Regions from separate parts of the Homo sapiens genome. Here all the other regions are reported to be linked to region 4. The links are microRNA targets in miRTarBase. Many come from high-throughput screens and were not tested one by one. Region 4 holds a microRNA gene; each other region holds the end of a gene's coding sequence. Distances are between the middles of the regions.
What was found. The annotated mature microRNA hsa-miR-182-3p reads UGGUUCUAGACUUGCCAACUA and lies in region 4 at 3,440-3,460, shown strand. An mRNA with a match to its seed (bases 2 to 7 or 8) in the 3' UTR can be bound and repressed. Matches are read on the target gene's strand: a 7mer-m8 pairs with bases 2 to 8, a 7mer-A1 pairs with bases 2 to 7 and ends in A, and an 8mer does both.

Region 1 (6,435 bases), not on the chromosome of region 4:
TTTGATGGGGTTGTTTGTTTTTTTCTTGTAAATTTGTTTGAGTTCATTGTAGATTCTGGATATTAGCCCTTTGTCAGATGAGTAGGTTGCGAAAATTTTCTCCCGTTCTGTAGGTTGCCTGTTCACTCTGATGGTAGTTTCTTTTGCTGTGCAGAAGCTCTTTAGTTTAATTAGATCCCATTTGTCAATTTTGGCTTTTGTTGCCATTGCTTTTGGTGTTTTAGATGTGAAGTCCTTGGCCATGCCTATGTCCTGAATGGTATTGCCTAGGTTTTCTTCTAGGGTTTTTATGGTTTTAGGTCTAACATGTAAGTCTTTAATCCATCTTGAATTAATTTTTGTGTAAGGTGTAAGGAAGGGATCCAGTTTCAGCTTTCTACATATGAACAGCTACCATTTCTTAACCACTCACAATGTGTTAAGCACTCACTTAATCTCATTCTTTAAAACAAAACAAAACAAAAACACCAATGAGGACACATACTGTTGCAACAAACACTGTACAGATGAAAAAGCTGGGACTCAGAAATGTTGAATAGCAGCCCAGGACACACACTAGGAAGTAATAGGGCTGGGATTAGCACCTGAGTGTGTGTGACTCCAGATCCATGCTCATAACCATCTGGCCTCGGAGCCCTCCCACAGGGCTGTGAGAAGAGATTGTCTTGCTGGGCCAGTGGGTGCAGGAGACACTGAAGCTTGGAATAGGGTGGGATTTTTCTCCCTTACAGGGAAGGAGAGAATTGAGTGAGGGGAGCCTTAGCAGTCCCTGACTCCACCCTTTCTCACTAGATTTGGGGGAAACTGAGGCCCATAATAGTTGGAGAGGCAGGATCCAGAAACCAGGGGGGTTTGTTTACCTTGGCCTGGAGTTGGCTCCTCCCAGGTGGCTCCGCCTCTGTGTAGTGCCCTCATCCCTCCCTCTCTGTGTCCACAGGCTTCCTGTCACTTCGTGTCACATCCCACTCCTGTCCTTCACTCCCTCTCAGTCTATCCAGCCACCCCCAGTGTGGAGAGCAGACTAGACTCCTTTCTCGGACACTGCCATTGCCTCGTCATAGAGGCAGGGCAGCCCCAGCTACTCACTCTGAGCCTCAGGGTCCTTGTCTGTGAAATGGGACCATACCACCACTGCAGAGCTTATGTGAGGGGCAAAGCAGAGACTGTATGCAGAGCACATTGCATAGCTGCCAGTATGTCAAAAAAGCCAGCACTCCACAGTTCCTTTATGCAATACTTATAACTCCAGGATCTGTGGCTGCTGCCACTGTGGATGGTCCCGCCACGGACTCTTCCAGCATCTAGTGAGCTGAAAGGAAGGAAAGATGGTATTGGCACTGAAGCCTGAAACTCAGCTGAAGAAATAGAATTCCGTGCCATGACAGCTGCACATGCCACATTGGGTGTCCTGGGTCCTCTGTGACAAGAACCTTACTGAGGTCTCTGTGTGGTCTGAGATTAGCACCAGCAGCATTGGACCGTTGCCTTCTTTCTTCCTCCAACAGAAATGCCTCCACGGCTGTGTACGCCTGTTGCAACCCCATCCAGGAGACATATTTCCAGCAGCTGGCACCTGCAGCACGGAGCTCCGGCTTCCCAAACCCTCAGGATGGCGCCTTCAGCCTCTCCGGCAAAGCAAAGCAGAAGCTGCTGAAGCACGGGGTGAACTTGCTCTGAACTGCACCCAGGAGGTGACTGGGAAGGAGAAAACCAGCAAAGGAAGCTCTGCCTTTTATAATTGAAAAGGCCCCTCTATTTTATTTTTCTTGAAAACATTCCCTTTTTTAGGAACCAAATGATATTTGAGTTTTTGTTATTCCTTTTGCAGATTGGGATGTGTTTTGGGGGCAGGGGTTAGTTCTTCAGGTCGGCAGACCCAGAGCACTTGATAAAGAACTGTATTTAATCGGTAGTGTTGGGGCCGGGACGGGCTTGGCTCCCTCTCTGCCATACTGAGCCTGAGGTATTTCATATCTCCTGCTGTTCCATCCCAGCTTGAATTGGTGCCACAAGCTTCCAAGTTGGCATTTTTTCTAGAACCTGATCGTCCACTAGCCCAGAGTGTGTGTGTTCAACCCCCACACCAGGTGGTGGTAGGCGGTGTGACTGCACAGCGAGGTGCCGGATCTGTGAGCAGGCCGACTCCACTCCCACGCCGCAGGTAGGTTTCTCCAGTGCGCTCTTGCTGGGAGGTCCGGATCGTTCCTGCAGGGAAGCGGCAGCACACGGAGACCACTTGGTTGAATTCTGTTGGAACTCTACTCAAATCTAGGGGCGTCTTCTTTGGACCCACAATGGGGGCAAGCCTTAATAATATGGAAGGGAGTTTGGGCTTTAGAGATCCCTTTATAAAAGCTCTGGGGGCTGAGCCCTGAGAATTCAGTGACAACAGGACCAACCTGCGCTGCCTTTGACTACAAGTGGGCCGTGCAGCTGGTTCCTCTCGAGCGAGTGTCCCTAAATAGGAGTTTACAAGATGTCTGGGGGTAAAAGCACTGTGCTTTTCAGTGGTGGCTGCGTGAAAGGGAGCGACACTCAGCTGTGTGTTCCTGGGCTTGTGTGGTACTTAGAACCTCAGTTCTATTACGTTATAGTCAGACATTTTTTTGACAGTATGAGACAGACTGCAGGATGAAAATATTTGTCAAAATCTTAACTGAATGTTTACTGGAAGTACTTGAGATTCCATTTGAGAGTTGTATTGTTAATAATTTCATGTCAGTGAACTGATATCTGATGTTTATGATATGGTGTCTTTTTCTTGAAACAAGCTTCCAAGGGCTAGAAATAAAATAGCCAAAAAATGCTGGAGTTCTGAGTAATTAAATGGCAGCATTTTTTTGTGACAAAGGTAAGGGTTAAGACAGTGTGTGTGTGTGTGTGTGTGTGTGTGTGTGTGTGTGTGCGCGCGCGCGCGCGCGCGTAACGTGGGCGCATCCCTCTTTTCCTTCCCTGGGTTCAGTGTGGCTGGGTAAGGACCGTCTGTTTGTAGGGCTGCCAGGCTGCAGCCTGCTGCTCCAGGGAGCACCAGCTGCAGCTGATCCAATACACCAAGCCTGTGTCTCCCTCTTCTATCACCTCTCTCCAGGATCTCTGCTGTCTCTTGGATCCCATCTGCCTAGATGGAAGAGGATCCTATCCGAAGCTAGGATAAATGTTGTCTTACTCCTCTGCTATGTTCTCCCAGAAAAAATTGATTACAAGTTCTCTGCTGTGGTTGCTGCAGCTCCAGGAAGTCCCCGCAATGTCTCACGTTGTCTTTGACCAGTGGTCCCCAGTACCAGGCCAGCGAAGACAACTTTATAATGTCATTTGTGTTGTGAAAATTCTTCCACTGACCCAAAATGGAACCGTACAAAGCCTATCCGTGTATATGGAAAAGTCTCATGCACCTGGATTAACTCAGAAAAAGTAAAGTCCTGAAACTTCACTTTGCAGGTGTGCCCCTTTCTTTCCTCCTTTGATCCTGCTTAGTTTCTGCAGTGGAGGTTCTGCTCAGAGCCCCAGGGCACTGGCAGCTGCAGCCGTCATCTCTAAAGCTTGGTAACTGTGGCCCAGAGGCTGCAGAGAAGAAACACTTAACCCGCTGTTTTCCCGTTTTTTAATATTTCAGAGGTTTCAGGGGGTCACTCAGGACACGGTTAATCCCACAGCCCCAGGCCCATCCCCTCAAAATTAGCGCCCCCAGAGTACGGGCCAAGCGACGGACAGCCAAGCAGCATGTTCTTGCTGGAATGGGCACCACAACCTCTTATGGCCATGTTTCCCAAGGGAAGGCAGTGTGCAGGACAGCCTGCCCACCCTGGACTCCTAGTTGACACCGAGTGCCACTGTCAGTGATCCAGGACCACAGATTCTAGTGACTCTTCAGGGCAGAAAAGCCTCTGTTTTGGCTTCCTCTGTGCCAGCCATCTGCCACCTGTGAACTGTAAGGATAAAGGTCGCATGAGTGATTAATAGTGGTGTGTTAGTCCGTTCTCACGGTTCTAATAAAGACATACCCGAGACTGGGTACTTTATAAAGGAAAGAGGTTTAACTGACTCACAGTTCTGCAGGGCTGGAGAGACCTTGGGAAACTTATGATCATGGCAGAAGGGGAACCAAACACATCCTTCTTCACATGGTGGCAGCAAAGAGAAGTGCAGAGTGAAAGGGGGGAAAAGCCCCTTATACAACCATCAGATCTCACGAGAACTGTCACAAGAACAGCATGGAAGTAACCACACCCATAATTCAATTACCTCCCACCAGGTCCCTCCCACGACATGTGGGGACTATGAGAACTACAAAATGAGATTTGGGTGGGAACACAGCCAAACCATATCAAGTGGCAATCAGATTCCTACTGGGAAAGGACCCCTAGAGGGGATGTTTGAGCCTGATCAAACTGTCTCCTCCCCTGGAGGGAAGCATCTAGACTTCTGGGCCGTTGTCACTTCAACCGACAGAGGGTGGTAGCAAGTGGAGCCCAGGGGCTTTGTTGAAGTCGCCCTCCATGGTGTCTGTCTTGCATATTTGGTGGTCTTTTCCAATGTGGCTAAGATGTACTTCCCATGCCGCCCAGTTACTGCGTTCTTAACACCCCGCCCTGCTCGGGGTGGGTGAGTAGCAGCAGACCTTTCTCTGGTGTGAGCCTCCCTGCCACAGGCCACTTCCCTGTGTGTGCAGTGAGCTGAATGGTGGCCCCCAAAGATCAGGTCCCAATCCCCAGAACCTGTGAATGTTGCCTTGTTGGATCGGATGTTTGCAGATGTGGTTGAGTGAAGGATCTTGAGACGAAGAGATGATCCTGGCTTATCCCGTGGTCCCTAAATGCCCTCACAAATGTGCTTTTAGGAGAGGGGCAGGGGGAGGTTACTCACGTGGAGAAGGCCACGTGAAGATGGCAAAGACTGGAGTGATGTGGCCGCCAGTCAAGGAATGCCAGCAGCCACCAGGTGCCAGAAAAGGCAAGAAGTGGATTCTGCCCTAGAGTGTGCGGAGGGACTGTGACTGTCAACGTACTGAATTCGGTCCCGTGAAACTGATTTCAGACTTCGGCCTCCAGAACCGTGAGAGCATGGGTTTGTGTTGTAAGCCTCTGGGTATATGCTCATTTGTTACAGCAGCCAGAGGAAACAAATCCATCCTCCTGCCAACTTGCTTTCTCCTTGTGATGCCCAGTTCCCTCTCTCTCAGTAGCGCCGAGCCACAGAGCACGGAGGGCGTGAGAAGAGCTGGGGCCCCACATGAGGTTGCCATGGCGCGGGGCACAGGGGAGCCTTTAAGCAGGGGAGTGGGATGGGCGCGGTGTGACGCCTGTATAATCCCAGCACTTTGGGAGGCCGAGGCGGGTGGATCACTTGAGCTCAGGAGTTCAAGACCAGCCTGGCCAACGTGATGAAACCCTGTCTCTACTAAAAATACAAAAATTAACCAGGTGGGGTGGCGCATGCCTGTAATCCCAGCTACTCGGGAGGCCGAAGCCGGAGAATTGCTTAAACCCAGGAGGCGGAGGTTGCAGTGAGCCGAGCTGAGATTCATTGCACTCCAGCCTGGGTGACAGAGTGAGACTCTGTCTCAAAAAAAAAAAAAAAAAAAAAAAATGCAGGGGAGTGACTGGAGCTGGTTCTCATGAGGAAGGTCACTAGCTCCTGAGTAGGGGATAAGCTGGGCAACAGTGGAAACCACCAGGAGGCTATGGTTGTCCAGGTGGGAAGTGGAATGGCTGAAGCAGAGAGGAGGCCAGATAATGGGCAGACGAGCCTGGGCACTGATGAGGTTTGGGGCGGGGAGGGACAGCCCCAGTGGAGAAGGCAGCCAAGGAGATAGATTCCTGCCCTGAAGGAGCTGGCGGACGGAGTGAGCAGGAAACCCACACTAATACTCTCAGCCTGTGCTCCCGACACACACACTCCTCTCCCAACCCCTGAACCCACCGCTGCTCCTGGGAAAAGGGCAGTGGGTGTGGGAAAGCACTTGTCTCCTGCTTTGCTTCTTGATTCTGACTGCCACCCGGCTCTCTGTGAGGAGACAGGGGAGGGCAGGTGTCAGACCCACTCTCAGCATCCTAGCTTAGAAATAAAACATACTCTAGATCTTTCTTCAACATATTTGTTGAGTTTGAGAAGCTTACAGTGAAGATTCTAAGGGCTTCAAGGTGAAAATAGGACACCTTCTCTGTTGATCCAGTATTTAAATGTCCAAACCTGAAATTAGCTGTACTTCCCCTGAGAATAAAACCCAGAGAGTGCTTTGGAATCCTGTCAAGAGCTGGGAGGTGTTTTATGATTGCCTGTGCATGCCGAGGTATAAGCCGAAAAGTTGCAACCCTTCTCCCCTGCCCTGCCTCGCTGTCAGCTGGGCCAAGCACCCTGAGGAAAGGGCTTGAGGCCCAGGCTGCCAAACCCATGGGGAGGAGAGGGAGACAAGTCCTCTACCGAGTGTGCTGTTCA
Region 2 (6,435 bases), 120 Mb from region 4:
GATTTGTCTTCCACTGATTGCATTATACAAGGAAATTGCTAAACAATATCTTTGTTTTTTTGCCAATGCAAAAAAAAAAAAAAAAAAAAAAAAAATATATATATATATATATATATATATATATATATACACACACATATATAAAACTTAAAAATTCGTGTCCAGATGCGGTGGCTCATGCCTGTAATCCCAGCATATTGGGAGGCCAAGGCAGGTGGATTTCCTGAGTCTAGGAGTTCAAGACCAGCCTGGACAACATGGCAAAACCCCATCTCTACAAAGAATTAGCTGGGCGTGGTGGCACGCACCTAGAGTCCCAGCTCCTGGGGAGACTGAGGTGGGAGGATTGCTTGAACCCAGGAGGCAGAGATTGCAGTGAGCAGAGATCGCTACTGTACTCCAGCCTGGGCAACAGAGTGAGAACCTATCTCAAAAAAAAAAAAAAAAAAAAAAAAATCATATTATATCCTTTAGTACACACATGTATGCATTTTTGTTGGGTACACACCATGGAGTGGGATTTCTGGATTATAGGATATGTGTATGTTCATTTTAGTAGAAAATACAAAAACTGTTCAAACCCATTGTATCAATTTATACTTCCCAAGTAGTGGATGTAAGCTCCAGTTTCACTATATCCTCTCCTGTATTTTTACTTGGCATTACCAAGTAAAATATTTGATTTTAGTCATTTCCTAATGAATATTAAAGTTGAGCCACTTTTTACAGGTTTTTTTTTTCTTCCCCCGAGACGGAGACTCTCATCGTCACGCAGGCTGGAGTACAGTGGCGCGTACTTTCGCTCCAACCTCCGCCTCCCGGGTTCAAGCGATTCTCCTGCCTCAGCCTCCCGAGTAGCTAGGATTACAGGCGCCCGCCACTACGCCCAGCTAATTTTTTGTATTTTTAGTAGAGACGGGGTTTCACTATGTTGGTCAGGCTGGTCTCGGACTCCTGGCCTCGTGATCCAACCGCCTTGGCCTTTCAAAGTGCTGGGATTACAGGCGTCAGCCACTGCGCCCGGCCTTTTTACAGGTTTAATGGCTACTTTTCTAACAGTTTTTGTGAAGTGCATTTATAAGCCAGTTTTTTCTCTGAGTTGTCCGTTTTATCCAAGAGCAAGAACACGGAATGAATGATAATTCTACATATGCGGGGCATTTGTAGGCTTTTAAATTCAAGTTCAGTTCAAATGAATTAGGTTTAAAATAAATGTTTAAAATAAATAAATTAGGTTTAAAATAAATTAGGTTTAAAATAAATAAATTAGGTTTAAAATAAATTAGGTTTAAAAGAAAATAAAATAAGTGTTTTCTTTCAGTTCAAAGTAATTATCTACCTACTTTTTCAGCAGAAGGGCTTGTGTCACTACACAACAGTATAAATTCACAGTATATAGCTTTGGAGAATGATTGGGACAAGAATTGCTTGATGACTGAATAATGAGTTAAGTGGACTGATGTTTTATGTTTATAGTGTGTTCCTAATCATTACTGGAGGCCAAAACATTGTTCAAAATACAATGTGAAGGCCATTCTCTTTACCAGAACTGCTAGAAATAAGTGGTGGGAAATATTATTTGATGAGCTATCTAAGACGAGAAGAGAACACTGAGGATTGTGCTTGAGAAGATACAGAGGATCTAAATGGCTCACCAAGGCTCTCCGGCACCAAGAGGTAAATGCAGGACCTCTGTTTGACTGAGTTGAGTATGAATTTCTTGAATCAGAGAGAAAAGATGAGGCTGACCTCTACTAACAGTAGGCTTCCTGGGTCTTTCTGTTCTTTCTTTCTTCTGATTAAATATTAGATAAATATGCCAATATATTGGTTTGAAGAGACACAAGCATATTAACTTGCTAGGGAACACCTGTATCTCTTTCTCCACATGTACCTAGTCTAATGTGTTTGGTTTTAGATTAGTACATACGTTTGGCAAATATATAATATTTTTTGTGTATGTTTACAAAAGTAATACTGTGCTATGGATCAAAAAGTTTTGACCAGTTTATACATCTATTAACAGTGTATGGGTGAACCTGTAACCCTACATTTTGATGACCACTAACATTTTAATATTTTAACATTTGCTAATCTGGTAGATAGATAAAAGTATGATTATTTTATTGTGAATTTATTTAATTAAGAGTGTCTTAGAACATCTTTTCATTATTTACTGGTCATTTTCATTCTTTTCTGTGAACTTCTATTCATGTCTTTTGGCCATTTTTCCATTGGGTTGTTGACTCATTGATTTGTAAGAGTTTCTTTTCAGTGAAAGGAATTCCTTAAGTAGCTATAACATTAGCTGTATGTATTACATATTAATTTCTAAGTTACTCATCTGTTTTGGGTACTAGATACAGTTGATTTATCATATCTGTGGGTTCTACATCTGCGGATCAAAACTATTTGGGGAAAAACAATAAAATAATACAACAATACAAAAGTAATGCAAATTAAAAAACCAATATAGTATAACAACTGTTTACACAGCGTTTACACTGTATTAGGTATTATAAGTAACGCAGAGATGACTTAGAGTATACAGGAGAATGGTATAGGTTTTATGCAAATACTATGCCGTTTTATATAAGGGACTTGAGCATTCAAGGATGTTGGTATCCATGGGGTTCCTCGAGCCAATCTCCCGCGGATACTGAAGAAAAACCGTATATCATATTTTCATGTAGTGAATGTATCATATTTTTAATTTTATGCTTCATGAGTACATGCATCTTTGCCGTGATGCATTCAGAAATTATGCTTATGTTCTTCTTTTTCCATCCTTTGGGCAGGTTAAAACCCTGCAACAGAACTGAATAATCATTTTAGGCTCTCAGCAACTTTTATTCTGCCTTATCATCTTGCTGCTGATCTCATTTTTGATATTGCCATTCAATAAATATTAACTGAGACCCTACTATATGCCTCGGCCTGTGCTATAAATTGGAGATGAGAAAAACCACTGGCTAAACTAGAGAAACATCGTAAAATACAGTGTACCCTAAGCCACTCACCTTGACCTTTACTAATTTTGTGAAAAAGTACTACTTATTAAATCATTTTATTCTCATCATCCTTCAAAAAATATTCAGCTTGACCCAGAAGATATTTATAAATATTTTTAAAAATTATTTTTCACTCAATTACATTCCTAGAAATGTTAAATGTCTACTTACATCATTTTTGTTGCATGCAGGACTAGCACTATATTTATTAGTACAGGTTACACTGCCATAGCAAGAAAACGCCTTTTTAGGTAAATTTTCCTTTAGGCAAATGTCAGAATTGGGTCACATGGTCATAATCAAGTTGAAGTAAGGCTGAGAAATCTCATGCCTGCCTGGACGGCCACATTATCTGCTAAAATATCAGTGAATTCTATGATTAAAAGAAAATAGAGATATTCAATACTAAGGGACAGCAGCTTCTACCATAGTCCATTTGTGTGGTAAGTCAGTTGTCTCTTTAGTTTTTTCATTCCACATGAAGGATGAGAAAAATTCATGTGGGATGAATTGTTGGACCCTACATTGTTCATCCTTTAGGGCCCAACAATTCTGAGCTTTTGGCTAAGAATCTAGAATCTCTACATGAGGCAAAGTTCTTTCCATGGGTTCTAACGTAGCTTCTTCTTTTTCAATGACCTATATAGATTAGTAGATAATGCAACTGCCACTCAGTGTATCAGTATATACTGATATACAATGGTATATTGGAAATAAAATAGAATGAAATAATAGAATAGAATAGAATGGAATGGAATAGAATCAGGGTAACTGCGATAAAAATTATTACTTAGAAAAGGGAAGAATGGAAAACATAAAAACTCACTTTTCTGTAGCTTTGCTGAAATCTTGCAGGACAAAAATTGCTAAGATTCTCTAGTGGCTACCTGCCAGTAAGTAACTTGATATCGTTAACTTACTTGAACTTGGCTCTGCTCCCTGGGATACTCCCCTGTGCATTGTCTTTTTGATCTCCTGTGATATTAAACATGTACTGTACATGTACATGTATCTAAGTGGATAACAATACAATTCATTTTGTCATGAAAGAGCTGTGTTTTCAAAGGCTTTTAATAAGGTTAAAAAAAAGATAAAATTCCTCTTAGAAAATAACACTTAGCAGTTAATGACATCAAAGTCATATTGACTAAAGAAGGAAAATAGCAACCAATTGTTAAAGCCACCTTAACATAAACCTTATTGCAAGTATACACATCTTTTGAACACAATCTATAGAAAAGAGAATAACTTCCAAGGCATTACAACTTTTTCTCTGGCATGTTAAAAAACAACTCTGACTAATGGCTAATGCATTATAAAATTTCCTATCTGACAAATCTTTCTAGATTATGCATAGTATTTTACTTTTGAAAGGTCATAAAAAAGATATAAATCAGTTTCCATAAGAGCTAATATTGGCCCATAACGAAAGTTTCCTTCAGGTTATTTTAATGTATTAACGTAAGAAAACTCCAGGTGAAGAAGAATTTCAAGCCAAAACTAAGCATTAAAAAATAGGCGTTTGGTTGAGGTTAATTTTTTTTTTTTTTTTTTTTGAGACAGAGTCTCTGTTGCCCAGGCTGGAGTGTGGTGGCGCAATCCTGGCTCACTGCAACCTCAGCCTCCTGGGTTCAAGCAATTTTCCTGTCTCAGCCTTCCAAGTAGCAGGGACTACAGGCGTGCACCACCACGCGCAGCTAATTTTTTTGTATTTTTAGTAGAGGCGAGGTTTCGCCATGTTGGCCAGGCTGGTCTCGAAATCCTGACCCCAGTGATCCGCCTACCTCATCCTCTCAAAGTGCTGGGATTACAGGTGTGAGCCACCGCGCCCAGCCTTAATTTTCAAAAGACAAATAAGCAAAAAGCTTTTCCCGTTCCTCTCCCAAAACAGCAATGAGATAACTGCCTTGTAATGTTTGTTTGCTTTTTACAAATACCAATTTACCACTTGCTGGAATCCCAGCCCAGGAACCAGCCTGTGAATGTGGGTGGCTCATGGCCCTGTTTTATGATGACAATTGGTGTCCTCTTGTCTCTTCCAGAAGGGTCTGTCTCAAGGTACATTTTGGCTAAAAAAAGTTGTAAAGACATATAAATTCAGTTAGTTTGGGTTAAACTAAAGTAACTGCAGATTGAAAATTCTTCGAATAAAAGTAATGAATTAAATTTCCAGAAGAACAAATAAATATTGGCTACATTGAAAATGAAAATTCTTCGAATACAATTCTTCAAATCAAAGTAATAAATTTCCATTGACCAGGTAGACAAATACAATTTCTTTTTGATTTCTCTCGTCTGCCATGAAAGGCAACATGTGAATCTCATTAATGCCTGAAAGAATTCCAAGTTTTATGGAATTGTCCTTGTGGCATAATTATTGTTATACGTTTCAGTAAAAGGAAAATTGTGCCAGAAAGAACAGCATAGTCAAAAGGAAGTTTAAAAAATCTGGCTTATCACAGTCATGGAGGTTTTACTCTTATAATAAAACAAGGGTTGAAATTAATTTAAGTTTTCAGATTAAATTGATATAATTCTATTCTAGATTAGATAACAAAACATATTGTTTTCTTGTGCCCATTTGGAAATTCTCCAGTTCAAAAAATCCCATTACTCTTTAGTTTTGAGGAGGAATGCTAAGCTACTTCTTGATTTTGAAATGTATTTTTGTAAGACATGGTGGCAAAGAGCAAGCCAGACACTCGGTCATAATGGTGCCCGGTTACTGCTATAATGGTCCATCGATTGAGCTTACCAGACTTCAGAGATTCTTTTTTCTCAACTTCATTAGCATCTTTGCCAATCCAAATAAATATCTGAAAAATGAAACAATAACAATATGTATGATTTCTGGGATGTTGACTCAGTGCTAGGCCCTATGTAAAGTGCTTCACACACACATTGCTCATTCAATCTTCACAATATCCGCAGAAGTTAGGGACGTGGAGGTGGTGGCCCAGAGAGGTACCATCACTTTCCCAGTGTTCACACTCATCAGGAGACACCTAAATCTACATCCAGCCTGTTTCACTTCAGATTTCACACTTGGATATTTTATGTTTACATGGTACTTTCTAGTTTGTAAAGTGATCTTTCACAAAAAAAAACAGATTGTCTGGGTGGACTTTTTTTTTTCATCCACCCCCTAGGGTGTGACAGCAGTCGAAGGAAACCAAAATATTTCACCTCCGAATACACTTCTTTGACATATTTCGAGATGGCTGTTCAGAGGACTTGCAAACAGAAATAGCCCTGCAAATCTGCCTTTTGTAGGGGAAGATCTGCATCTGTAGAGAATCTGCAGTGGTGCAGCCGGACTTTCTTTGAGGCCCTCCCTTTTCGGGATCTAGGGAAGATTAACTGAGAGTATCACACTCTTAAAGGTCTGAAAGAAACATTTACCATCTATACTTTATGTGAGGTT
Region 3 (6,435 bases), not on the chromosome of region 4:
GAGAGGAATTCAAATTGTCTCTGTTTGAAGATGACATGATTGTATATTTAGAAAACTGCATCGCTTCAGCGCAAAATCTCCTTAAGCTGATAAGAAACTTCAGCAAAATCTCAGGATACAAAATCAATGTGCAAAAATCAGAAGCATCCCTATGCATCAAAAATAGACACACAGAGAGCCAAATCATGAATGAACTCCCATTCACAATTGCTACAAAGAGAATAAAGTACCTAGGAATACAACTTACAAGGGATATGAAGAACCTCTTCAAGGAGTACTACAAACCACTGCTAAAGGAAATAAGAGAAGACACAAACAAATGGAAAAACATTCCATGCTCATGGATAGGAAGAATCAATATTGTGAAAATGGCCATACTGTCCAAAGTAATTCATAGATTCAATGCTATCCCCATCAAGCTAACATTAACTTAGTTCACAGAATTAGAAAAAAACTACTTTAAATTTTGTATGGAACCAAAAAAGAGCCTGCATAGCCAAGACAATCCCAAAGAAAAAGAACAAAGCTGGAGGCATCATGCTACCTGACTTCAAACTATACTACAAGGCTACAGTAATCAAAGCAGCATGGTACTGTTACTAAAACAGATATATAGACCAATGCAACAGAACAGAGGCCTCAGAAATAGCACCACACATCTACAACAATCTGATCTTTCAGAAACCTGATAAAAAGAAGTAATGGGGAATTTAATAATTGTTGTTGGAAAAACTGGCTAGCCATATGTAGAAAGCTGAAACTGGATCCCTTCCTTACACCTTATACAAAAATTAACCCAAGATGGATTAAAGACTTAAATGGAAGACCTAAAACCATAAAAACCATAGAAGAAAACCTAGGCATACCATTCAGGACATAAGCATGGACAAAGACTGCATGACTAAAAGACCAAAAGCAATGGCAAAAAAAAAAAAAAAAAAAAAACAAAATAAAATTGACAAATGGGATCTAATTAAACTAAGGAGCTTTGGCACAGCAAAATAAACTATCATCAGAGTAAACAGTCAACCTACAGAATGGGAGAATATTTTTGCAATCTATCCATCTCACAAAGGGCTAATATCCAGAATTTACAAAGAAGTTAAATAAATTTACAAGAAAAAAACAACCCCATTAAAAAGTGGGCAAAGGATATGAACAGACATTTCTCAAAAGAAGACATTTATGCAGTCAACAAACATATGAAGAAGAGCTCATCATCACTGGTCATTAGAGAAATGCAAATCAAAACCACAATGAGATGCTATCTCGTGCCAGTTAGAATGGTGATCATTAACAAAATCAGGAAACAACAGATGCTGGAGAGGATGTGGAGAGACAGGAATGCTTTTACCCTGTTGGTGGGAGTGTAAATTAGTTCAACCACTGTGGAAGACAGTGTAGCGATTCCTCAAGGATCTACAACTAGAAATACCTTTTGACCCAGCAATCCCATGACTGGGTATATACCCAAAGGATTATAAATTATTCTACTATAAAGACACACTCACACATATGTTTATTGCAATACTCTTCACAATAGCAAGACTTTGAACCAACCCAAATGCCCATCAATGATAGACTGGATAAAGAAAATGTGGCATATATACACCATGGAATACTCTGCAGCCATAAAAAAGGATGAGTTCATGTCCTTTGCAGGGACACAGATGAAGCTGGAAACCATCATTCTCAGCAAACTAACGGAAGAACAGAAAACCAAACACCACTTGTTCTCACTCATAAGTGGGAGCTGAACAATGAGAACACATGGACACAGAGAGGAAAACATCACAAACCAGGGCCTGTCAGGGGGTGGGGGGCTAGGGGAGCTATAGCATTAGGAGAAATACCTAATGTAGATCATGGGTTGATGGGTCCAGCAAGCCACCATGGCATGTGTATTCCTATGTAACAAACCTGCATGTTCTGCACATGTGCCCCAGAACTTAAAGTATATATATATAAATAAATAAAGGCAGCCAACTCTGGCACAAAACATGCATACAATTAATCCCTGCTGTGTGCAGCATATAGAGAATGCTACAGCCTAAGTGATTCCCAGATTGGAAGGCCTAGGTTCTAGTTATGGCTTTGCTCATAACTTGCTATGTAATCTTTATTGGGCAAGTTGGTTCCCTTATCCTCATCTGTAAAATGTGTATGTTAATAATACATTCTTTACCAACAGAACAAGGTGAGCATGAAATGGAAATGTTGAAGAAAGTGCTTTCAATGTAAAGCAAATATAAAGGATACCTTGTCTTACTTCTGTTACTCTTCTTACTCACCCTCCTCTTCCTTCTTCTCTCTCTCTCTCCCAAGCCCCTTGTCTTCTTTTTCACTATATTTTTGATCCTTTTCTTCCTTTCTTTATTCTCCATTAACCAGTCTTGGGTTCACCTGCAGCACTGCACTTAGGCAAAGGAAACACAGATTTTCGAGGTTGACAGACTTGAGTCTGACCTGGCTTTGCCCCTTCCTACTTGTTTGTTAAGCAACAACTTTACCTTTTTTGAGCCACAGTTATATCACCTGTAAAAAGGGATGCATATTACATTGGTACCAAAGTAAATGTGGTGTCTACCATTGAAAGTAGTGGCAAAAACCACAACTTTTGCATCAATCTAATAACACCTTCCTTAAAATACTGTTGTCAGAAAATGTGGTAGATTGTCTGTAAATATGGCTGGCAACAATTCCTCCCATCTCTGACATGCATGCAGCTCCTCCCCTCAAGACATGGAGTATATATATTTCCCTTACCCTTTAAACCTGAGCTGGCCCTGTGACTCACTTTGACCAATAGAGTGCAGAGGCAGTATTGCTATGTGACTTCTGGTTTTATGCCACAAAAGGCCTTGCTGTTTATGTGTGTTATATGTGTCCATTTTTACAGATGATAAAACTGAGGCTCAAAAAGGTAAAGTAATTGCCCAGCAAGTAGGAAGGGGCAAAGCCAGCTCAGACTCAAGTCTGTCTACCTCAAAAGTCTGTGTTTCTTTTGCCTAAGTGCAGTGGAGCAGGTGAACCCAAGACTTGCTCAAGGGAGAATAAAGAATTAAGAGAAGGAACAAAAATATAATGAAAAAAATAATACAAGGGGGTTAGGAGAGACACAGAAGAAGGAAGAGAAGGGTAAGTCAGTCTGCTTTGGTTTTCACTCTCTTGGATGCCACTTGCCAGGTAAAAAAGTCTGATTATTGAAGTGAAATGCCAAATGGAGAAAGGCCCTGGAGGATAAAAGACTACAAAGGCTGGAGTTGGTATTAAGACATCCAGCCCACTCCTGTTCCAGCCACCTCAGGTGAGGTGCCAGATGAGAGTGCAGCCATCTTGGATCTTACAGCCTTAGCCAAGCTGTCTGAGGCAAAACCACATAGAACAGAAATTAGCCATTCCCAGCAAGTTCTGCTCAAACTGCAGAGTCATGAGCAAATAAATGATGGTTGTTTTAAGCCATTAAGTGTTTGTGTGGTTTGTTTCACGGCAATAGATAAATGAACCAGAAAGACTACATGAGATAGTAGTGACCCACCAAGTGGCTGGCAGGTGTAGGTGCTCAACACATGATTACTCTCTTCCCCTTCAAAAGCATCCCTAGGAAATGGCTTTCCTGGCTGTTGGTGCTCAGAGTTCAAAACCTGTTACCATCACTACAACATAATTGACAGACCTGACCTCCATTGTGCCAAGGATGCAGAGCTATGGCCATGCCTCCTGTACTTTACAGGGACTCACTAAGGCCTATACAGGTTAAGGTGTACTCCAAGTTGCACAGATGACTGTCCTCCCTTTGCCCAGAGTGAGCCTGAGCCACTTCAAAAGCACGTCTGTAGCTATACAAAACCTGGGGTGATATCAGGGAAGATGAGTAGTATAATTTTTGACTAGTGTTCCAATCTACCTAAACCCAGAGGCACAGTGAATAAAAGGATGTTAATACTTATGAGTGCTTACTATGTGCCTCACATTGTTCACAATCCCATGAAATAAGTGCTAATATTTTCCCCATTTTCCAGATGAGGACACTGAGGCACAGAGAGGTTTTATTTAGCTGTTGAATTCCCTGACAAGCACAGAGACAGATTAGTGTACAGGATATTATTTAGAGAGCCCTTGGCCTTTATATCCCTGAATCAGTCATTTGACACCCAGTTCTTGATTTCAGTTCCAAAGTTATTTCAACCACTCTCATCATCAAGCCATTCTGAAAGGGAGAAAGGTTTTCTTAAAAATGATCATGGAGAAGAAGTAGAAAAAAATGAGCTCTGGAGTTGGACAAAGCTGGCTCCAAATCCTGCAATTTCCTCTTACTAGCTGTTTAACTCTGAAAAAGCTTTTAAGTTTTTGGAGGTTCAGTATCCCTTTTTTTTTAAAATGGTGATAAGAATACTTAGCTTGTAAGGTATTTTGGAAGTCAAATACAATCATTTATATTAAGCAACTTGCATAGGTACCTGGCACAGAGTAGGTGCTAAATAAATGGAAATTATTGTGATAATTAGGTAAATTATTGTCCTTGGTGCCTGGCTTTCTCATTTGTAAGGTGGAATGAATAAGAGCAAACAAGAGCTACCCAGAAAGGTAAATGACATTACATCTTTTGTATTATCCAATACACAGTAGATACTCAGAATTTACTCCAATGAATGCATGTTAAAAGGATTTGTACAGACACAACACTCTTACTTTCAAAGAGCAGAGGAACATTTTATATAGTGAACACATACACACTGTGGCAATGTAAAACTACTTAAGGAAGGAAAAATATCCCCCTCCCCAGCCAGGTACTGAGACCTGGGGCTAAAATTTTTTGTCAGTCAGCCCCCATCCCCATCCCTTATCTTCGAGTGACCTTACCAGGAAACCTGGCTTTGGTGGAAAGGAGAGCTGTGGGGCTTGGGGAGCCTGATGCCTTTTCTTTTGGGAGGAAAGGCCACCTGCACAATCCACAGGACAGGAGTGGCCAGCAGCTATCCTGAGCTGAGGCTCCAGAAGAGTTCAGATCCAAGAGAGCAAGGGATGAATGGAAGGAAAGTCCCACCCACCTTCATGTGTAAAGTGATTGGCATTTACTCAAATCTAAATCTACTCCTCTCCTCCCTGCAATATACCATTGAGCATGTGCCAGAGTAATGGTTCTGAACAAAAGCCAACACAGATGTCAGCCTGGGGGCACTCTCAGCCTAAGGAAGCCCCTACAGCCGAGCCCTCAGCCCTAATGACTTAGGCAGTAGGTTAGGCAGGAGATGTAGAGTTGGTCTGGCTCACTGATTTCACTGTGGAAATCTTCTACTAGAATTTGCAAAGACTAGATATTGGGGAAAGGTTCATTGATCTTAAGATCCCAAGACACACAGCCTAGTACCTAAGAATTTTAGTATATGTGGGAGACAGAAGTGGAGAAAGCTAAAGAATTACAGCCATGCCTCCCAAATGATTATGAAAAGGAGGGCTTGTCCAAGCTACCTCTGGGCCTTAAGGATGAGATGAGGGTAGGAGTAGGGGGATACATGCACCCAGCCTGTTGGAGAATCCAACATGAAGACTATTGTCCCTTGAGAACCTAAGGCAAAAGTACAAGGAGGGGAAATACTGGGTCCTTTACCTGAAACAAGATATGGGCCTCCCCTGCCCCTCAGACCCTACAGCTCCTTAGGCTCCAGGCCTCAGGCACAAGAGATAGAGAATCATATCTGAGCCTTTTGCCCTTCCCTTAGCTCCAAACAAGGGCAGGGGTTGAAATGTGAGTGGGAGAGAAGGGATCATCAGACACACTGTTTAGCACCTGAACCACATCTCTTCCTAAACCAGAAATCCCAAGAGCAGAAAGAAATAGGAGCAAAGTGAGAGAGGGGTTGTGCTTCCATCACATTAAATAGGAGACTTCGTGGGGTTGGGCAAGGGTTGTTTCACATCAGGACATCAATGACTCTGGTCAAGGTGAGGGGTTATAATTAGCAAAGCTTCATGTGCTCTCCCTTTCTTTATTCATCCTGCTTCCGTTTCGGCTTTTTGGGGTTCCGGGACCGACTCTTGGCCTTGCAAAGAGGGCATATAGGTGCATTCCGGTGAATTTGCTGGTGACATGACAAGCAGGCCTGGTGAGGGACACAGGAAAAAGAAAGTTAGTAGTCAGATTCTTCCAGGCAACAACTTAGACTTCTGATTCCCCAGGGGCCCAGAAAGCAAAGTGATTTCCCATCAGAAGAGAGCAATAATCAGTGAGTAGACTCAAGTATTCTTGGATGCCATGGAAGATGGGAAGGAAGGACATAACCCAGTTCAGAGAATGGTGTTGAGAAAAAGTATACAAAACTAGAAAGTAAGGCAAAATGAGAACTACACATCTTTTCGTCATTATAATGAAGCATTGTCTAACAGGCCCACTTAAGGACTATTTAATTTTCTAGAACAGGGGTCAACAAACAT
Region 4 (6,435 bases):
CAGCCACACCTTCCATGGAGGCACCCAGGGCCTGGAGGTGTCTCAGCTCTGAATCTACAGGCCTGGGCTCCCAAGGATGCCCCAGATGGCAGAGACTGAGGCTGGGAGGCCTGGACCTAGTCTGTCAAAGCTGGGGAGAGCCTGGCCAGCCAGGCTGGACCCATGTGAAATCTGGTGGTCAGCAATCAAGCAGGAGACCAGTGGCCGACTTGGGACCAGCTGGGAGCTATCATGCCCCAGGTCACTGGGCCAGCCCCTGATGGGGCTGCTTCTCCCCAGGGAGCCTCAGGCAAGGGTTGGTGGACTTAGCCCAGATCAGTGGGAGTCATTTTAGGTGTCTGAGCCAGGGAGTGCCCGGGTGGGGGATGTGTGTGGTTGAAGCTGGCAGCTGGAGGATGACGGGTCCAGTTGACTGCACAGCAGGAACATGGTGACCAGTGCTGCCTGCCTGGGTGCCCTGGGGACTGCCTTGGGTGGGTTGGGCCTTTTTTTTCTTGTCAGTTAGCTATCACCAAACCGCGAGGAGCCCCCAATAAATTCCCTCTGGGGTGTGGTGCCCGTGTTTCTCTACAGAAGCTCTCCAAGCCCCTGCAGAAAAAAGGAGGGGCTTGTTTATTTCAGGATAGAAGGGGACTTCTGCCCTGGTGAGGTGTCCCTGTAGCTAGGTCTCTCTTCTGATGGCCCCAGCTCTCCCTCTGCCCCTCGGAACCTGGCTGGCCTGTGCCGCACCCTGTCTCTGTGCTCCAGTCCTCCGCCCCGGGTGCTTCCTTAGGGCGTCCTGCTGCAGGTCCCATGGGATAGGAAAGAAGGGATTTCCCGGCCTGAGTGAGAATGAGCCCTGGAGGTGGGGTGGGCACAGAGACCCAGCAAGGGGGGGTGGAAGGCCCCTGGCAGTGACCGGTTCTAGAGCTTTTCCCTGGAGCCTCTGGAGTGTCTGGCCAGGGTTCTGCTCCTTCCTGCCTAGCGGGGAAGGCCGGATGACAGAAGCTGCCCTCAGCCCCTGGGTGGTCTGCAGCTGGGCTCCACCTCCTCACACCTGCCCAGGTGGGCGCCTTTGCTGAGCCCCGAGTGCAGGCACTGGTGTGGGGGCGTGCCTCCACCAGGCTTCAGGCCCGGCTGCTCTGGGGCCCTGCTCCAGCGCTCCAGGGGAGGACCTCAGGCCAAAGCTAGTTTCTAGATCTCCTAATTTACCTAGTTCCGGGCCAGACCTGGGTGGTGAGTTCACCCACAACAGTGACTGTCCCAGAGAGTGGGGGCCACCACAGCTGGCCCTCCTCCCTAAAGACACAATTTCCTACCACCCAGGCTGGGGGCACTTAGGATAGGAGAGGGCCCCTCTTCACCTCCCCACCCTGCAGAACAGGTCCTGGATCCTCCCTTGTGTGGCTTCCAGAAGGTCTGTGAGATGGGCAAAAGGTTCTGCCCATGATCTGTCCAATGGTGTCCAGTGTCAGGCAGGAACGCTGTCCCACTGCAGCGAAGGCCTTTCTTGCTGGAGCGGGAGGGTCACTGAGAAGCACTTTTTGCTTTGTTTTTCTGTTTGTCAAAAGCAGCGGCTCCCAGATGCCCGGGTTTAGGGCGTCCCCCATGTCGGGCACCTTGCTTGGCCTGTCTGGGTGCGTGGAGCGGCAGGAGGGGCAGCTCCCTGGAGGGCTGTATGAGTGGGTTTTCCAGACTCCCCGCCTCCCCCACCACTCCATTTGCTTATTCATTCCAGGCCATTATCCCAGCCTCTGCCCAGCCTCAGGCGGGTCGAAATGCGATCCGGCACCATTGATCGCCTGCAGCCCCAGGCTGCCGATGGAGCCCGGCTGGTGCGGCCACAGCTGGGTGGGGAGGAGGACAGGACCCCCCACATACACACTGGAGGAGGGTGGGAGTGGCCTCCTCAGCAAGTCCCAGGCTTGGGGGCTCCATGGGACCAAGAGAGCCCAGTGCTGCTGATGTCCCAAAGCAGGCCCGCCCACCCTCGGAGAGGCTTCCAGAGTCGTGCCTCTGCTCAGAGGCCAAACCTTCCCCACCAAGCCTCTCCTTTCGGGCAGAGGTGTCCTCCCCAGCGCCCAAGCCCAGGCTGCCGGTCCGGTCTGGGTGCCACCGAGGTCCTGGACTTGGCCCTGGGGATGGCCTGGATCTGTTTGCATCTTAAGCCATCATCCCATCTCACTCCACCCTAAAGGGCAGGCAGGATGGGAGGGGTGGTGGCGGTGGCGGCGGCAGCGGTGTCATTTTGGGGGCCCTGCCAAGTCAGCTGCTCCCCCAGCCGGGGCATGTTCGGAAAATGAGCCTGCTCATGGTGGGCCCATACTGCCCAGGAGGCTTGAGGGCAAAGAGTCCCTTCCAGGCTGCAGGGGAGGCATGGGGATGCAGGGTTGGGGGCAGGCAGCCTGCACCCTTGCTAAAGGCTTGAGATGCCTTCAGGACACTTCAACACCCCTTGGGAAAGGACCTGGCCTCATCAGGGGAAGTGGGAACACGGAAGTGTGCTGCCCTTGGGTAAGTGACTGGCGGTCTGGGGAAATGCCACTCCGAGAATCAGATCGCAGCCAGCCCTCAAAGGGTCTGGGTGTGTGCAGGGCTGCTGGGTGTGTGCAGTGGGTTCTGTGGTCAGGAGAGTGCCGTCTGGATGGGAGATATTTGGTTGGTTTTAGCTTGGCCCATTCCTGCCACTGACTGATGGCCCCAGAGGCTGCCTGTTCCCGTTCCTGGGTAGAAGGTCCCAGCGCCATTGTTTGTCCACTGCTTTTAGGGAAGAGGCCTTGGCAAGTGGAATGCTCTTCCTCCCTTGGACTTGATAGGGAGGAGGAATGTTTTGTGTAGCAACTTCCCTCTCTCCCTTTGGGGTGGGCAGCCTGTGAGCTTTAGGCTCTAGGGAATGGCTTGGGAGCATCTCTCTGGATTAAATGGAGCAGTGACGTGGGCTTAGTAAATAGCAAAACCCAGCCCACATTAGCCATCTCTTCCCCAGCGCCCAGGGGCAGGGCTCTCTGGCCTGGCTTGTGCTGGTTCCCAGAGTCCCTGCTGTCAGGTGCTGGGAGTGGAGGTGCCCTCGGGTTCCCTTGGGAGTGGTGACCACAGCTCAGGGCCTGGGTTGGATCCTGGTGGCTGCCCTAGGGATGGTGTCTGCTCCATGCCTGCCCACAGGAACTGCAGGTTACAGATATGAGGGGAAGGGAGGAGAGGAGGGGGCTGAGGAGGGACCGGGACCAGCAGGAAGGGGGACTGTGGGGTTGGGCCTCCACACCAGGGCGACCCTGCAGGAAGGACCTTGTCGCAGTTGCGGGGATGGGCGCCTCTGTCCTGGCCCTGCCTGGACCATCCTAACTGTCTCTGTCTCTTCCTCAGCACAGACCGAGGCCTCCCCAGCTCCTGGGGGGAGCTGCTTGCCTCCCCCCGTTTTTGGCAATGGTAGAACTCACACTGGTGAGGTAACAGGATCCGGTGGTTCTAGACTTGCCAACTATGGGGCGAGGACTCAGCCGGCACCCTGTGCACAGCCAGCGAGGGAAGGGCCGGCCATGCTGGACCTGCTGTTCTCCGCGAGGAAGGAGGGGACTCAGGTCCCGGACTGCTGGGTAGTGGCAGAGGGCAGGTGCAGCTGGAAGTGACACTCTGTGTTTCCCTGCATCCCCCTGAGGTCACAGGTCCTCAAGTCAGCTGGGAAGCCGTTCTCTGGCCCTCAGGGGTGCTGCCAAGAGGAGCTGGGGTCCAGCTCTGCTCCAGGCTGTGGCCCTGGAGTCTGAATCGAGGAGTGAGGGAACTGGGGGATGTTTGGTTTCAGGGCTTTGGCCTGGCTCCTCTGGGTGGTGAACCTTCTCACCCTCTCCCCTGAAAGGCCCTGTTCAGGGTGGGCTCTAGGGCCCCGAGGGAGGGTCTCCTAACCTTCCACAGGTCACTAAGAGTGGTTCCTTCCTGGGCTGCTGGCTGGGAGGATGAGGGCAGGGAGGGCACGCCGTGCATCACGGACATCCAGTGATCCTGCTGAGGCCATGGAGGGCCAGATGGGATAAGCCTCCAGAGATGTGCAGGAGGAGAGTGTACAAGTCACTTGTGTAAATGCGGGACTGGCCCCCTGGGGTGCAGGTGGCCCATGGGCTGGACCTCTATGCCTCCAGCATTCCACTTCATGGATTTGTTCCTCCTGACGCCTCAGAACCTGAGACAAAGCCTCCACTCACCTTCCCAGAGCTTGTGTTTGCAGTGGGAGCTCCCCTGAGCCGGAGCCGGGCCACAGGGTCAGAGTGAGTGGCACTTCCCAGAGAGTTGGGCTTGGTGGGCAGACCTGCTGGGGAAGCCCGGCCCTGGAGTCTCCTGGCCTGCAGATGGCTCAGGAGCCAGAGTGGGAGCTGCGCGTGTGGTTGAGAGGGTGTGGGTGCAGGTGTAAGTGTGTGTGTGAGTGTGGCCTAGCCCGCAGTGAACGGTGCAAATGCAAATGTGAAGGCCTATCCCCTGCTCCCCAGCCCTCGGCCTGCCAGCCTTCCTTCTCTGGTGCTCCCCATCCCCCAAACCCCTTCTATCAGCCCCCATCAGCCCTCCTTTCTCCTCACCTGCCCTCGGAGGGTCATGTGTGGTTCCATGACCCACCAACCCCTGTGGCTGGGCAGGGCGGGGCAGACATCTATCTGGTGGCTCCAGGCTCAACCGGCTCCGTGCAGCTCACTGCGCTCTTTTGGGGAGACACAGGCCGAGTAGGGAAGGTCTGAGCCGGCAGCTCTTGAGACAGAAAGAGAAGGGAACTGTTCTCCCGCAGGCTGCACTATGCATGTTACATGCCGTGAGCACAAGCAGACGCTGCGTAAACAGGCTGGCTCTGCAGGGCATGAAGAAGGCTGCTCTGAGCTAGGGCCACACGGCACCTGCTGGGACACAGGGAGGGGTGGGGAGTCCTGGAAGATGAGTGACCCTCAGGGAGAGGAGGAGACTCCTGTTGGAGAGCACACAGATTTCCTGGGGTCTATGCCGGGCTGGAAGGCTGGCCATCTTAAGGCTGCATTTGTTCCCGAACCTAAGGACCATGGGAGCCACGCAGCCAGAGGGGGTGTGATCAGATGTGTGTTCTGGTTGGATGGCTCTTGTGGCTGTGTGCAGAATGAAAGGAGGAGTTGGACTTGGCCATTAAGTCCACGATGGCAGAGGAAGCAGGTGCCATGGGAGAAGGACCTTGGATACATGCCCAGGAAGGTGAGTAGGGGTCTGCCAGAGACCAGGGCCTGAAACGGCTCTGCTCTCTGTTCTTTTTTTTTTTTTTTTTTGAGACTTGAGTCTTGCTCTGTCGCCCAGGCTGGAGTGCAGTGGCGCCATCTCGGCTCACTGCAAACCCCGCCTCCCGGGTTCACGCCATTGTCCTGCTTCAGCCTCCTGAGTAGCTGGGACTACAGGCGCCCACCACCACGCCTGGCTAATTTTTTGTATTTTTAGTAGAGACGGGGGTTTCACCGTGTTAGCCAGGATGGTCTCGATCTCCTGACCTCGTGATCTGCCCGCCTTGGTCTCCCAAAGTGCTGGGATTACAGGCATGAGCCACTGCGCCCGGCCTGCTCTCTGTTCTTAAGCTTGTAAATAACAAAACCAGGAGATGTGGGCTGAACGGTTTAGTGTAGTGATCAACAGCAGCATAATCGCGGTGCCCAAGTACTGCTAAGTGCTAAGCATGGAGGTAAGGTCAGTGATTAGAATGCGTTTTATAGTCCAAGCTGGCGTGGAGGAGCCTTGCATCATCTTTGTCCCCCGACCCACATAGCTTCATTTGGCTGGTACAGCTGCTGGTGCTCCATGCTGGCAGGAATAGAATTATTATGGGGCCTCAGCAGGGTGGGCGCTGAAGAAGAAATTGGGGGCTTTGGGCAGATTGAGTCACAGTAAAGCTATTGATCTTTGAGCACAGACTGTGCTACATTTTCATGATTTCAGTGAATCCTCACAACCACGGGCAGCGCACAGATGAGCAAACAGGATCAGGACAATGAAGTGTTTATAGCCAAGGTGAGTGGTGGAGCAGGGAACCCGGGCCCTGGCAACTGCTCCCAGAGGCTGCAGGCCCCGTGCCACACAGCCAGGGGAGGGGGCTGCACTGTGGCCAGTGGACCCTGACCTTCTCCCTGGTGCCCCTTTAGCCCCTGCAGAGACTTCTGCCTTTCCCTAGGATACATGGTTGCTGGGGGTGGCAGAGCTAGAACCAGGGTGGTGGGAAGGCAGGACTGATCAGTGGGATGGTCCCTACGGAATGGAATGTCCCAGCTGCCGTCACCACTGCCACCTCCCCATCTCTGTCCTGCCCTGCTCCACTGACCGTCCTCTGAGCTAATCTGACCACAGTATCCCCACCCTCTCCCTTGGGATAAGCCCAAGCGCCTTACCTGGTTTATGGGGCCTGGTATGACCCAGCCTTGCCATGCAAACTACCCTCCTGCTCCCCCCACCTGTCTTCCTGCTCGCCAG
Region 5 (6,423 bases), not on the chromosome of region 4:
CTTTTATAAGTACATAGTCTTGAATAAACAAAGAGGAAAGATGGTCTAATAAATATATAGTATGGTGAATACTTTAAGGTAACCAGTAGTCAACACTAACTTTGTTTCCAACTAGAATTAAATTCATGCTGTGCAAGGAGTCAGACAATGAGCAATTCTCATCTTACTATTTATACCTCTATGGCTTAGGGTAAGATGCTCTGAGGGACAAATGTGAATAAGATTTCCTTAGATCTTGTGCTTTGGCTCCCCAAGTACAAGGAAACCTGAAATAGAATGTTATGTCAATTGCCCATTCATTTTGGTTAGTACGACTCTTTCCTCATCAGTTTCTAGAACAATCTCAGATGACAAGTGAATTGTAAAAGGCCGTAATAAATTAACATATAGCAGTATGCAGACAGATCAAAACAGGTTATGAAATAGATTTAAAATTACTTCCTACAATAAGTCTTAAATATAATGACAACATTAACAAAATAACCAAAGGTCCATAGGCAAATGTAGTTTATGACTAAGCTTAAAGCATTCTGAATGAATACAGTTGAGATTTCTTATCAGTGAGGTAACAGGGCAATAGTCCTTCACAGTAACAAAATGTGCAAGGGTGCCTAGGAAAAGTGGGAGGTAGAGAGAAAAAGGCATAAAATTAAATGTATCCAAGTGAAGTTTGGATTTTTCAAGCATCACAAATATCAATGGAAAATGTGGAAAAAAGTACTGATAGCAGCAGCTCATAGAACAACTTATCCATTAAACTACAGCTAATATCCCTGTTGCATCAATTCCAGAAGCAACTTGCTTAAGAAATGGGAGGTCTATTTCCTATATAAAGACATTCCAAAGTATCCAATCTCTTAGAACCTCTCCATCTGCTAACGTATCTACATCAAAATAACAACATATATATTCAAAACGAAAACCTCAAATAACCTAAGCCACTATACATTCTTCAAGATGAACAAAATTTTGTTCAAGTCTCACTTAATTTGCCAGGTTAAATTAAAAATAACAGTGAAGCAGGAAAATTATTCATTGCACTTATGCATCAGTTACTCAAAACACACAAAAATTGTTTTGTGAGCTAAATTCTTCTAGATATGGAGTGAAACCCAAATGTTACTTTTAGTGCCCTTTATGACATTTTTGTTCTAACCTGAGTTTTTAAAAAAAATGTGCTGGAAAGAAGGACCCTTAAAAAGTCATCTGTATATCTCTTAATTTTTAAAATTTTTATTCCCTTAAAAATAAAAAAAAGATTTTGAATAGAAGATATTATGAAGATTTCTCAAGAAGTTCCTAAATCTTAAACTTTCCATGCTGTCTTTAAAAAAAAGATCCTTATTCCCTCTGGTTCTGTCTTCACTAGAGATGGAGAACACTATGGCATAGTATTTCTTACTTTGAACCCTTCAATAAAAGACTCAATAAAGCTTTATTAGCAAACTTAGCAAACTATCTCAACAGCTTTCTCCTCTCCAGAGTCAAACAATCTTTATTCCTTGAACTTTTTCTCAGAAGTCTTATTTTCTAATCTACATTTTCTTCCTTTTTATTTCTGCTCTACCTCTTCCTGAGTTCTCACATGATTCTGATACAACATCCTAGCAGGAACTGAATCCGTAAAAGGGATACTTTTTCTCACCTCCTAAACCTTGGCCTCATTTTAGTGATCACAATAAAGGAAAATGGTAGGTGCATACTCATCATAACAACAAATAAACACAAGTAAACAGGTGGGACACAGTTTATTCCCTACTGTTATGGTGTTACATTTGCCCTTCACGAGAAGCATTTCCCGTGTCTCTTTATATTGTTTGCTTATTTCTACTGTTTATTTCCAATGTATGCTTTGATCTTGCCCTACTAATTCTCTCCTTTTCTCCAAAGCTTTAGAAAATTCCAGTTTTGACTTTCATGCTCAATGAGAATGCAATCATTTTCACAATATTGTTCAAAAAGAAAAAGATAAACATTGTAGTGCCCGAGGCTGAGACCTCCTAGCCAGCACTTCTGTCTCTCCTGACCAGCTTGGGCTATCACTGAATTTATCCTGTTAGGCAAATGTGCACCTACTACATCAAGTTCATGTTAAGTATCATGCTCAGACAGACTCATGACAGGCTAGAATAAAATAATTCCCTCAATCGATACACTTCAGGAACATTTGTAAAATTTTGTTAACTTGAGAGAAGAACACTTCAATAACTTTTCACCTTAAGATGACTTAAATGTTGCATTATATTAAAGCACTCAAATAAAACTGTTTTCTTCATAATAGAATGACAGTCATGACATGGCTTTAGTAACTATGAATGAGCCGTTGATTCATTTTAGCTTCATTTTTGTTTATCAGTCACTGAAACACAGAACTAAACCAAATATACCTGTTTTTCATATATACAACATTATACCACTTTGCAGAATATATGCCATTTCCTAAATTACAATCTACATTCTTAAAAGCATATAAAACAAAAGATGTTTTACACATTTTAAAAATAAAACAAAAATTCTACACATATCTTCTCCAGTGCAAAGCCTTTGAAAACAAACTCATTGAGAAAAATGGTGCTCTACATTTAGCTAGCTGTCTATTATCTACAGTCATACAGTCATATAAGATCCAACAATAAGAAAGTAAGGAAGGAACAAATTAACAATAGTGGCAATACAATAGTTGGACAATTAGGTTTGGATTATATGAGCTCAACCAAATGTTAGCTGACAGCTGCAACAAACGAAACCATGATTTAAGGAACATTCTAATCAGTTCAAACTTTATATTATTATTTTATATGAAATAAATTCTCTAATTACAGTGCTATCTCCCATAAGCAATTTGTTTAGGTCTTGTTATTGTTATCTCCTAACTATACCCCATATGTATTCTGAGAACTATGTAGGACAAGATACATTTTAAGAAGATTAAACACAGCATTTCTTTTTCTCTCTCTCTCTCTTTTTTTTTTTTTTTTTGAGATAAGGTCTCACTCTGTCATCCAGGCTTCAGTGCGGCAGTGTGATCATAGTTCTGTAACTTAAACTCCTGGCCTCAAGCAATCCTCCTGCCTCAGCCTCCCAAAGCGCTGGTATTACAGATGTGAGCCACCAAGCCCAGCCTAAACAGCATTTCTCTATTAAACCTTTTCAGAAGACTGCATGATTAGCCAAAAGTGACTTTTTTTTTTTTTGAGATGGAGTCTCCCTCTGTTGCCCAGGCTGGAGTGTAGTGGCGTGATTTCGGCTCACTGCAATCTCAGCCTCCTAGGTTCAAGCAATTCTCCTGCCTCAGCCTCCCGAGTAGCTGGGACTACAGGTGCCCACCACCACACCCGGCTAATTTTTGTATTTTTAGTAGAGACAGGGTTTCACCATATTGGCCAGGCTAGTCTCAAACTCCTGACATTGTGATCCACCTGCCTCAGCCTCCCAAAGTGCTGGGATTACAGGCGTGAGCCACTGCGCCCAGCCCAAAAGTGACTTTTTGTAAAAAATTATTTTCTACACTAAAAGAAGATAAATAATAGTCATGCAATCAGAAATTCTACAGAAGTCAGCAAGATGTTAGAATAAACTGGACCTCTGTTTTAAAACATGTAGTTTTAGTATTTCATAATACTTAAAATTTGGATGTTTTATTCTTAGTAAAATTAACATTACTTCATAAAATAAAAGAATAAATCTACTTACAAAAATGTAATTCAAAAGTTAGACTGTCAAATAAATTCAGAGCTCCTTTCTCAGTTCAGATTTTTTTCTGTAATAAAAGGTTTGATAAATGACACAATTCTAATATGAAGATCCTTAACTACATTAAGCTTGCTTTTATTAAGATCTTTATTTATATTCCTAAGATTTTAAAATCAGCAAACTCACTTGATATAGAGGAAGCACCTACAGATTTTGGAAGATTTTCCTTAGCTATCTGCAAATTGACTGATTAAATTATGGTAAATGCAGGAACACTGTTTTTTCTGTTCACACCAGACCCTGAGAAGGCACTGAGAAATTTGATAAGAACAAAGCCAATAGGAGTGTTGCCACTATTGTTTTATGTTCAGTAAACATCAGAATTTTAAATACATACAGTAAATTTATACTGCACCAAGGGCACCTGAAACAGACATGCCAAAACCACACACTGTAACATCTGTTCTAAACTACAGAAATGCTAAATATCCTATTTCAAATACTCTAATTTGTAAATTAATACCTGTGATGTCACAATGACACTTTTTCATAACAATCAAGGAAAGTACCATTTTCTTGCCAATTTTATGGACTAATTTCCTTAACTAACCCTACAATTATATAACATTTACCTGTCTTTTTTTTTTTCTTTTACCATGCTATACACAATTACGAGATACAGAACTAGGCTTAATCACACTATAATAAGAAAACTCACTTTTGAATTGTGATGTTTCTGTTAACGGAAGGACAATACGTTACTATAATACTTTTAGTGTAATAACTTTTGTTTGAATTATGAAAAAATTTGAATCATTTCCCTCTAGACCATTTCATTTCAAACTTATACTTTGTTTAGTCTAGCCAGTTGACCAAAAAGAAAGAAAATAAAAGGAAAAAGATACTCGGCCAGATGAGATAGAGAGAGAATGCTAACACAAGGTTCAATGTATGCAGTTCTCGGTTGCTCTGTTCCATATGCCCACACAGTGTCATGACATATTGGTGTACCCCTAAACAGAACGCCAGATCAGTCCATTCTTACTAGGCTGAAGAAAATTCTCTATCAGAGCATCAATGAGTTTCTTCAGTTCTTCCTCCAGTAAAGCAGTGTCACTGAGGAAAAGATGAAGAGTTTTGGAATTATTTATTTTCATAGGCTTAAAATTTATTTAAATTAGTGTGATTTTTTAAGAGGTCCTGATGGAGTCATTAAACAATTGGTAAACAAAAGAGAAATTCACTTGGTTAAAACAAAACAAGACCAAAAAAAAAAATTACACACAAAGAAAACACTGCTATCACAAACTGAAGGTGAACTGCATTAATAGGAGTTCCTTGGCACATGATAAACAGAGGAGTGATGGTGTATCTAAAGAATTCTCCTGGGTCAGGAGAATGAGGTTCTAATGGCTTTGAACACAAATACCAGGTGTTAGGAGAAAATGGCTTCCTGAAATACTTTGAAAAATATTCAGTACAGATGTTATGGAATGATATATCTTTCAGGTAGCAGAAGGAGGTGTGACTAAAATAACGTGATGTTTAAAAAAATAAATGTGCACTTAAAAGAAGGCCCTTGAAAGTCATCACTGAGGTGCTGCCGTTGCCCAGAACATTTCGAGGCAAGCCTCTTTTAAACTGCCTTTACAGTCATTTTAAAAGCTACACAACAAATCAGTTCTTATTACTTTAATAATCTTCCTTCATTTTCAACCAGATGTAGCATTACCCAATTTGGTTTACTTTAGATTCTACTTTGAATGACTTCGGGGGCTCTTTATCCCCCCCAAAGGAAATGAAATCTATCCTTAAATGCAAAGATTTGGGGAAATACAAAATAGTATAGCTTGGTTGGACTCTGAAAGCAATTCTAAAAAATCTCCTTCCCAAATATATATTGAGCAATTACAATATTATAGGAGACAGTACTTTTAATACATTTAAGTAGCCTTTGAATATGTTTATGAAATTCACTTAGTCACAATTCATCCTCTTAAAAGGAAATGAACTGAACAGATTATGTCAAGTCATATTAGACATAGAAAATGGATATTTGGCAATAAACAAATTATTTGATGATAATTTCCTTATGTTAATCACATAATACTTAAAGCTCAGAGAATCTTTCCAAGAATAGAAATTCAATACAATTTTAAAATTCAATTCCCAAATGATGTAGCTGCTTTAAAAAATGGTCTGGCAGTTCCTCAAAAGGTTAAACACAGAGCTACCATATGACCCAGCAGTTCACTCCTAGGTATATACCTAAGAGAAATGAAAACATACATTCACACAAAAACCTGTATGTAAATGTTCATAACAGTATTCAAAACAGCCAAAGAGTGCAAATAATCTGAATGTCCATCAAATGATCAATGGATTAAAAAGCATGGCATAGCCATGCAATGGAATATTGTTGGGCCATAAAAAACAAAACTTTAAAAAAAGGAATAAATTCATGCTACAACTGAATCATGGTGGAACCTAGAAACCATTATACTAAGTAAAAGACGGCAGTCACAAAGGCCCACATATTGTATGATTCCATTTATATGAAATGCCCAGAAAAGAAGCAAATCTATAGAGAAAGACAGTAGATTGGGGTTGCTGAGGGCCGTAAAGGAGGGAAATGGGAAGTGATTTCTCATGGCTACGGGCTTTTGGGGGTGATGAAAATGTTCTAAAATTGATTACAGTGATGGATGCACAACTTTGAACATACTAAAA

Region 1: the mRNA of HPS4 is a reported target of hsa-miR-182-3p. Seed matches in the 3' UTR shown: 7mer-m8 at 2,035-2,041 and 7mer-m8 at 2,568-2,574.
Region 2: the mRNA of SCIN is a reported target of hsa-miR-182-3p. Seed matches in the 3' UTR shown: 7mer-m8 at 3,619-3,625 and 7mer-m8 at 2,386-2,392.
Region 3: the mRNA of ZC4H2 is a reported target of hsa-miR-182-3p. Seed matches in the 3' UTR shown: 7mer-A1 at 5,140-5,146.
Region 5: miRTarBase lists PGM2L1 as a target of hsa-miR-182-3p. Seed matches in the 3' UTR shown: 7mer-A1 at 1,352-1,358.

Annotation. Positions count from the first base shown.
Region 1 is chr22:26,448,475-26,454,909 of GRCh38, reverse strand. HPS4 (HPS4 biogenesis of lysosomal organelles complex 3 subunit 2) reads left to right here. Exons shown (of 14, transcript NM_022081.6): 14 at 1,506-4,028. The coding sequence ends at 1,677. Among named protein-coding and RNA genes, the nearest start is that of ASPHD2, 22 kb to the right of the region's middle.
Region 2 is chr7:12,651,233-12,657,667 of GRCh38, reverse strand. SCIN (scinderin) reads right to left here. Exons shown (of 16, transcript NM_001112706.3): 15 at 5,767-5,827; 16 at 1-5,080. The coding sequence ends at 4,953. Among named protein-coding and RNA genes, the nearest start is that of ARL4A, 33 kb to the left of the region's middle.
Region 3 is chrX:64,911,793-64,918,227 of GRCh38, forward strand. It overlaps ZC4H2 (zinc finger C4H2-type containing), which reads right to left. Exons shown (of 5, transcript NM_018684.4): 5 at 4,015-6,104. The coding sequence ends at 5,991. Among named protein-coding and RNA genes, the nearest start is that of ZC4H2, 61 kb to the right of the region's middle.
Region 4 is chr7:129,767,431-129,773,865 of GRCh38, reverse strand. MIR182 (microRNA 182) reads left to right here and starts at 3,374; the gene lies at 3,374-3,483. It overlaps LOC105375501 (a long non-coding RNA gene), which reads left to right and starts at 4,661. Exons shown (of 3, transcript XR_927963.4): 1 at 4,661-5,178; 2 at 5,908-5,979. RefSeq lists enhancers at 1-633, 2,360-3,223.
Region 5 is chr11:74,331,946-74,338,368 of GRCh38, forward strand. It overlaps PGM2L1 (phosphoglucomutase 2 like 1), which reads right to left. Exons shown (of 14, transcript NM_173582.6): 14 at 1-4,809. The coding sequence ends at 4,707. The region is part of intron 2 of LOC112268078 (a long non-coding RNA gene); the gene reads left to right. Among named protein-coding and RNA genes, the nearest start is that of P4HA3, 24 kb to the left of the region's middle.